Homo sapiens: one gene and its partner. The protein of the gene in region 2 purifies or fractionates together with the protein of the main gene of each other region. This does not show direct contact. Each region holds a gene or a part of one and is shown on either strand. Other genes may lie near its edges.

Region 1 (3,500 bases), on a different chromosome or scaffold from region 2:
ATGAGGTATTGTCACCTTGGCCAGGCTGGTCTCGAACTCCTGGCCTCAGCTGATCTGCCAGCCTCGGCCTCAATCTCATGAGACTTACTCACTATCACAAGAATAGCAAGGGAAAGAGCAGCTCCCACAATTCAATTACCTCCCCCTGGGTCCCTCCCACAATACAGGGGAATTCTAGGAGATACAATTCGAGATTTGGGTGGGGACACAGCCAAACCATATCAATTCCAAACAACTGTGCTCAGCTAGTTACTGAAATTAAAGTCTATTTTTCTCCCCCAGGTCTGTTCCCACCTCCTGACTCCGGACTTTCTCAGCTCAGTTAAGATGCAGGTCATCTCCTAAAACTGGAAAGCAGAAGTCATCTTTGATTCCTCCGTCTCCTTCGCTGCCCAAAACAGCAAGTTGCCAAATCCTTCCCTGTTCTCTATCCCCAGTGCAGCCTAGGTGGTATCCCCAATACCACTCTCCCAGGCTCTGTGCTCACACACCCAGTACCCTACTCAGCAGCAAAAGGGATCTTAAATGCATATATCAGTTCATGCATTTAGTTAAAACCACTGAACAGCTTTTTCTTACTTGGAGAAACAAAGAGCCCTCACCATGTCTTTCGAATGCTTCCGATCTCTAAAACTGCATGTTGAGCCACTCTCTCCTCTCTTACTTTGCTCCAACACTTTTTAAGAAAAACTCACTTGAAGTTCTCCGAAGCCAATGAGAAATAAATCTGTACTATCTTCTGCTGGAGATTATGCACAGCACTACTCCTCTCCTTTGGCATGGACTCGGCATAATGATTATAAAATGATGAGGCTGCAGTGATCTTCAAGCTGGGAGCCTAGCTTCCTCCCTGCTTACCCCACATCCACATCCCTGTACATATTTCCATTCACTGGGAAAAGGCCCTAAATTCCCCCAAATAATCTGCAACATCATTTCTAGAATGGAAAAGGATCACTCCTAGAATAAAAATAAATACTGAAACATAATAGAAGACACAAGGAGATAAGCACAAGCCTTTTCACCTTCCTTCCTGGCATTTATACCCCTTCCTCTCAAAAAAGGCCAAAAGGCCCAGGGTAGAAAGTCTATGATAATGCAATCATTTTTAAGTGGGTAAGTTAACATAAGATGAAAATAGATCTTATTTAGACTCTTGCACCTAGAAGACAGAATGTTAGACGCACACAAATATTCGTTGATTTGCAATGACAAGTTATATATCAGCTCAAATGAACTCACGAGTCTATATTTGTAATTTAATAGGAAGTGCTGGCAGTCAGATTCCCTGCCCTTGAAAATACCCAAATATCTACTACTTACTGGCATCATCCATGAACTCAAAGTCACCTCCCAGTTCAGAACTTGAAAAGTTATACTGATCCGGATCAGCCAGGGCACTCAATAAAATCAACAGTACCACAGCATTGATGATCTGCAACAAGAAAAAAAAAAAAAAAAAAGAATTTAAGTAACCCCAGGATGCAATCCTTATAATAGAAAATTACACTGACCACATGGAGTCAGGCTGGCCACAGGCAACTTCTTCAGTGGCTTGACTCTCAACACTAAGCCCCACCCATGGAGGGAGCAGATAAACATTCCCAAGGCAGAAATGCTGCCAGCCCATTCAGTTGCAGCCAAGTGCACAAGGCTTGGAGTGAAGACAACAGCAGGATTTTACCTCATTCCCCCTGGCCCAGGCACCATAGAGCAGTGAACAACACACACAAACACAGGCATCAGCCCTGGCGCCAGTGGTTGAAAAAGCACAAAAACTTTCCAGTGAGTCAGCTACACTCTAGAGCTAAAGGTAAGCAACCCAAGTTGTCTCAGTTAATCAAACATTTTACAGGTTCAAACTAGTGGAGCTTTGAGAGCTTTGAAGCCATCTAGGAAGCAGTTTCAGAGAATGAATGCAAAGCTACATAGTGGATCCAGGATCATCCTTCTGCAATAACCCTTTCCAGGCCAGGCCAGGCCAGGCCAGGCCAGTAGTCCTGTCTTCTGAGTACTGCCCTTGGCTACTTTAAACTCAGCTCCTCTAAATGACAATCACCTTCTTTAACATCTCCCACTTCTGCCCTCCTTATTTGTTCTCTAATTTAAAAAATGGCCTCGCTATTAATAATTAATGAAAAACATTCAGGCACTATGCTAAGTGCTTTATGTGGAATCTCTCTTAAGCCCTGCAATAACCTAACGAAGTGGGTACTAAATTATTCCCATGTTATACATAGCAAACTGAGGCTCAGAGGTTAAAAAACACTGCCCAGGAACAAACAACTACCAAGCTGTAGAGATGGGATTTGAATCCAGGAATTTAGGTTCCAAAACCTAACCTCTACAAGTCTCCTGTCCATATACGAAACTTGATCATCTGAGTTTACCATCTTTATCCTGCACACTCAACCAACTGCAAAATCCTGATCATTCTACCTCTTCATTTCTATTTCCTTTATTCTTCCTGTCACTGCTGGACAATACACACACATATTAACTTTGATGGGGCTGGGGTAGCAAGGATTGCAGAGTTTAAGTGAGGCACCAGCTAAGACTGGGTTGTTGTCTGCTGAGAGACAAGGTGTCTATATTGCCCAGGCTGGCCTCAAACTCCTGGGCTCAAGCAATCCTCCCACCTCTGCCTTCCAAGTAGCTGGGCCTACAGGTGCGCATCACTGGGCCAGGCCAAGACTGGCTTGTTACTTCTTTACTATTCTAAGTTCAGAAACTTATGGCACAGTTCTATGTTTTACTCTTCTCAAATGGAGTGAAGATACACAGAGAAAAGCCTCTTACTAACAACACTAACTAATGGCATATCCTACCACAAAAATCATATTTGGGTTGAACACAGTGGCTCATGTCTGTAATCCCAGCACTTTGGGAGGCTGAGGTGGGAAGATCAGTTGAGCCCAGGAGTTCAAGACAAGCCTGGGCAACACAGTGAGACCCCATCTCAACAAACAAGAAAATGAGCCAGGCACAGTGGTGCATGCCTGTAGTCCCAGCTACTCAGGAGGCTGAGGTGGGAGGATCGCCTGAGCCCAGGAGTTTGAGGCTACAGTGAGCTGATGCGCCACTGCACTCCAACCTGAGCAACATAGTAAGACCTTCCCTCAAAACCAAATAAACAAAAATCCACATACTTGGAAATACCTGTTTAAAGGAAGTGTAAATGTTTTACAGAACATCCATTCAAGAGTTTATTTTTGGCCCGGCACGGTGGCTCACACCTGTAATCCCACCACTTTGGGAAGCCAAGGTGGGTGGATTACTTGAGATTAGGAGTTCGAGACCAGCCTGGCCAACATGGTGAAACCCTATTTCTTAAAATGCAAATTAGTTGGGCATGGTGGTGGATGCCTGTAATCCCAGCTATTCAGGAGGCTGAGGCAGGAGAATCACTTCAACCAGGGAGGCAGAGGTTCCAGTGAGCTGAGATCGTGCCACTGCCCTCCAGCCTGGGTGAAAGAGTGAGACCCTGTCTCAGGGGAAGA
Region 2 (3,500 bases):
GAGGTTTCTTATTTCGCATAGAGTCTTCAAGTGGCATTCAACACCTGGAAAATTATATATGGACCTTCAGGTTGTATTTTTCTCTTCTTGGCAATATTACAAACTCTCAAAACCTAAATAACAGGGTTATCCACATAGTCAAGTTTTGAAGATCACAATGAAGATGAACTTTCACATGTGTCTATATTTCTATTTTTTAATTTAAAAGATTAGCAAGTGTCTTCAAATGAAAATGTATTCATCAACATTTAAAATAAGATCAGAGAAATAAATAGAAATTGAACAATAAAACAAACAAATAGAAAAAGATTTCAAAGAGGCCCAATGCTTTTATTTTAATAGCTGAAGGAATCACCTAGAAGCTATCAGAAATTTCCTTTTCTAAGACCAATATTAACAAGAATTAGTAGTAGAATGTTCTTATGCTTATAAATCAGGTTGGTTTGAACTAAGCCTCACTGACCTTATCCAGAGCCACCTGAACCACTGCTTCGCTTTCTGTGTCCAAGGCTGACGTGGCCTCATCCAGCAGGAGGATCTTGGGGTTGCGAACCAGGGCACGTGCAATGGCGATCCTCTGCTTCTGCCCACCACTCAACTGGGCCCCTCTCTCTCCAACCAGGGTGTCAAATTTCTACCACAGAAAACCCAGAATGATTTAGCATAAGGACAAGCTATCTCAGCTCATATTTTAAATTGGTAAGGAATCCTATACACAGCCCAAGTCTCACAAGTAATACAGGTCCAGTTCTTTAAATCTTATTTAACACAATAACCAACCTCAGTTTTTAAAAATGTATCTACGACCAGTTGATACTGCTAGAGCTTTCAAATCTGAAGTAATCTTACTTTCCCTTCTTAGGATTTCCCTTCTTCCGATTTATAGTAGTTTCCTAACTTCCTGCATAGTAGGCCTGCATTTTATTTTTTGCACCTCTAGAAAGGCAAAGGGCAAGGACAACTTACATGAGGCAGTTTCATGATAAAGTCATAGGCATTGGCTTCCTTGACAGCTTTCTCAATCTCATCCATGGTGACATTTTCACGGCCATAGCGAATGTTTTCAGCTATCGTGGTGGCAAACAATACAGGTTCCTGACTCACCACACCAATGATTTCCCGTAGAAACCTTACATTTATGGTCCTAATATCCTGTCCATCAACACTGACCTGGAATAAAAAGTAAGTGTGACTTTCATACATTTGTAATTGAAAGGGCAACATCAGAAAGATGTGCAATGTGACTGCTGATCACCGCAGGGTCTAGCTCGCATGGGTCATCTCACCATCCCCTCTGTGGGGTCATAGAGCCTCTGCATCAGCTGGACTGTTGTGCTCTTCCCACAGCCACTGTTTCCAACCAGGGCCACCGTCTGCCCACTCTGCACCTTCAGGTTCAGACCCTTCAAGATCTACCAGGACGAGTGAGAAAAAAACTTCAAGGCAATTCACAGACACAGGATATAGGAACTGACTGTTCACTAGGTTTAAATATACATGCACTTTTTTATAATCTCTACAAGAAAACATCAGAAACTCTTCATTCAATAGATTAATTGTTGATTAATCATTTATCACTGTACCTTAACTTCTTTTCGAGATGGGTAACTGAAGTGAACATTTCTGAATTCCAAATTTCCCTTAATATTATCTGGTTTGTGCCCACTCTTCGAATAGCTGTCAATACTTGGCTTCTAAACAGAATCAAATTTTAAGAGATTACTAGGTTACAATAACTACTTTTAGTGATATTTTGTGGAGAGCTGGATAAAGTGACAAAGAAATTGACTTAACTGGACAATCTTTTAGATAGGTGGATAGATGGCCAACTCAGACTTACATTATCAATTATCTTGAAGATTTCATAAGCTGCTCCTCTTGCATTTGCAAATGCTTCAATGCTTGGAGATGCCTGTCCAACACTAAAAGCCCCAATTAATACAGAAAAGAATACCTGAGGAATGTGAAGAAAAACCATCAGGCTACTGAGATAGTGACAGCAATTTTTTTTCATACTTCTTCTGTCTTTTTCTAACATAGGTAATTAAAATTTAAAATGGCGAGGCAACATATAAATACTAGGTGTTAAAAATATTTTAAAAGTTTGTAACTAACAGTACATTTAATTCCTTTTTTCATTTTTTTTCCTTTTTAAGAGACAGGTTCTCATTCTGTCACCCAGGATGGAGTGCAGTGGTGCAATCATAGCTCGTCATAACCTCTACCTCCTGGGCTCAAGCAATCCTCCTGCCTCAGTCTCCCAAGTAGCTAGGACTACAAGCATGCACCATCACACCTGACTAATTTTTTTTATTTTTTCTAGAGACAGGGTCTCGCTACGTGTCCCAGCCTGGTCTCCTGGCCTCAAGCAATCCTCCTGCCTCAGCCTGCAAAAGTGCTGGGATCACAGGCATGGGCCACCACACCCAGCCAAGAGTAAATTTCAAATGTGTCACCTCAAAAGGTGTCAAGTGAGGAGATAGATATGTTAATTAGCTTGCTCTGATCACTCCACATTTTGTGTGTATGTGTGTGTATACATAAACATCACATTGTATTCCGTAAGTGTAATGCAATTATGATTTGTCAATTAAAAATAGCATAAAATTTTTTTAAAAAAATTTTAAGACAAGGTCTTGCTTTGTTGCCCAGCCTGGACTGCAGTGGTGCAATCTTGGCTCACTGCAACTTCAACCTCTGGGTTCAGACAACCCTCTCACCTCAGTCTCCGAAGTAGCTGGGACTACAGACAAGTGCCACCATATCTGGCTAATTAAAAAAAAAAATTATAGAGATGAGATCTCACTATGTTGCCCATACTAAAAATATTTTGGAAATATAAATACTTTTCAATTTAGAATGCAGAATTAGTCTTACTTGCTCAATAAACAATGATTTAAATTTCACAGGGCTAGAATATTATAATAGGATATTTTTATATTTCTTCAATGTCTAGTTTTTTTTTTATTTAGATCATCAGTAAGGTAAAGTGGAAATAAATGCTAGCAGAGGAGTCAGAAGACCCAGTTCTGAATCCTAAATTAGTAATAACTAGTTATATGTTGTTAGGCCATTCTCTTAGAATCTTTGGCTTCAATTTCTTCATTGGCAAAAACAGGCAAGATTCTATCTGTTCTCCCTACCCAGCAATCATAGAGATGTTGTATCATGATAAAACAGTGTATATGAACATTTTTTGTTAATTATAAAGCACACACACCTAAGACACTGATCCTTTATCAGGTTGTCTTTTTTGCCACAAGGCCGTGTTCTCTTTAGGCCTTTTGTTTTTTTGTTTTGTGCAAATCAGTTTCTTATTGGTAAAGACTTAACTGTGTTTCTCTTTGGGGTTGATGAGAATTAATGTCATTATTCATTTTTTCTAAATCACATGGAATTATATTGCTCAATAATTTACACAGAAGGAACTTTGCTAAGTGATTCTATATTCATTATCTCAGTTAGTCCTCAAAACACGCTGAAAGTTAGGGTTCATTCCT

Evidence for each region.
Region 1: the proteins of ABCB1 (region 2) and LAPTM4B purify together in Homo sapiens (co-immunoprecipitation; one study listed by IntAct). This does not show direct contact.

Annotation. Positions count from the first base shown.
Region 1 is NC_000008.11:97,803,288-97,806,787, reverse strand, and holds part of LAPTM4B (lysosomal-associated transmembrane protein 4B), read right to left. Parts: intron 1,436-3,500; coding exon 1,324-1,435; intron 1-1,323. UniProt on the Homo sapiens protein: Required for optimal lysosomal function. Blocks EGF-stimulated EGFR intraluminal sorting and degradation.
Region 2 is NC_000007.14:87,548,885-87,552,384, forward strand, and holds part of ABCB1 (ATP-dependent translocase ABCB1), read right to left. Parts: intron 1,955-3,500; coding exon 1,841-1,954; intron 1,695-1,840; coding exon 1,584-1,694; intron 1,413-1,583; coding exon 1,287-1,412; intron 1,171-1,286; coding exon 967-1,170; intron 635-966; coding exon 464-634; intron 1-463. UniProt on the Homo sapiens protein: Translocates drugs and phospholipids across the membrane. Catalyzes the flop of phospholipids from the cytoplasmic to the exoplasmic leaflet of the apical membrane.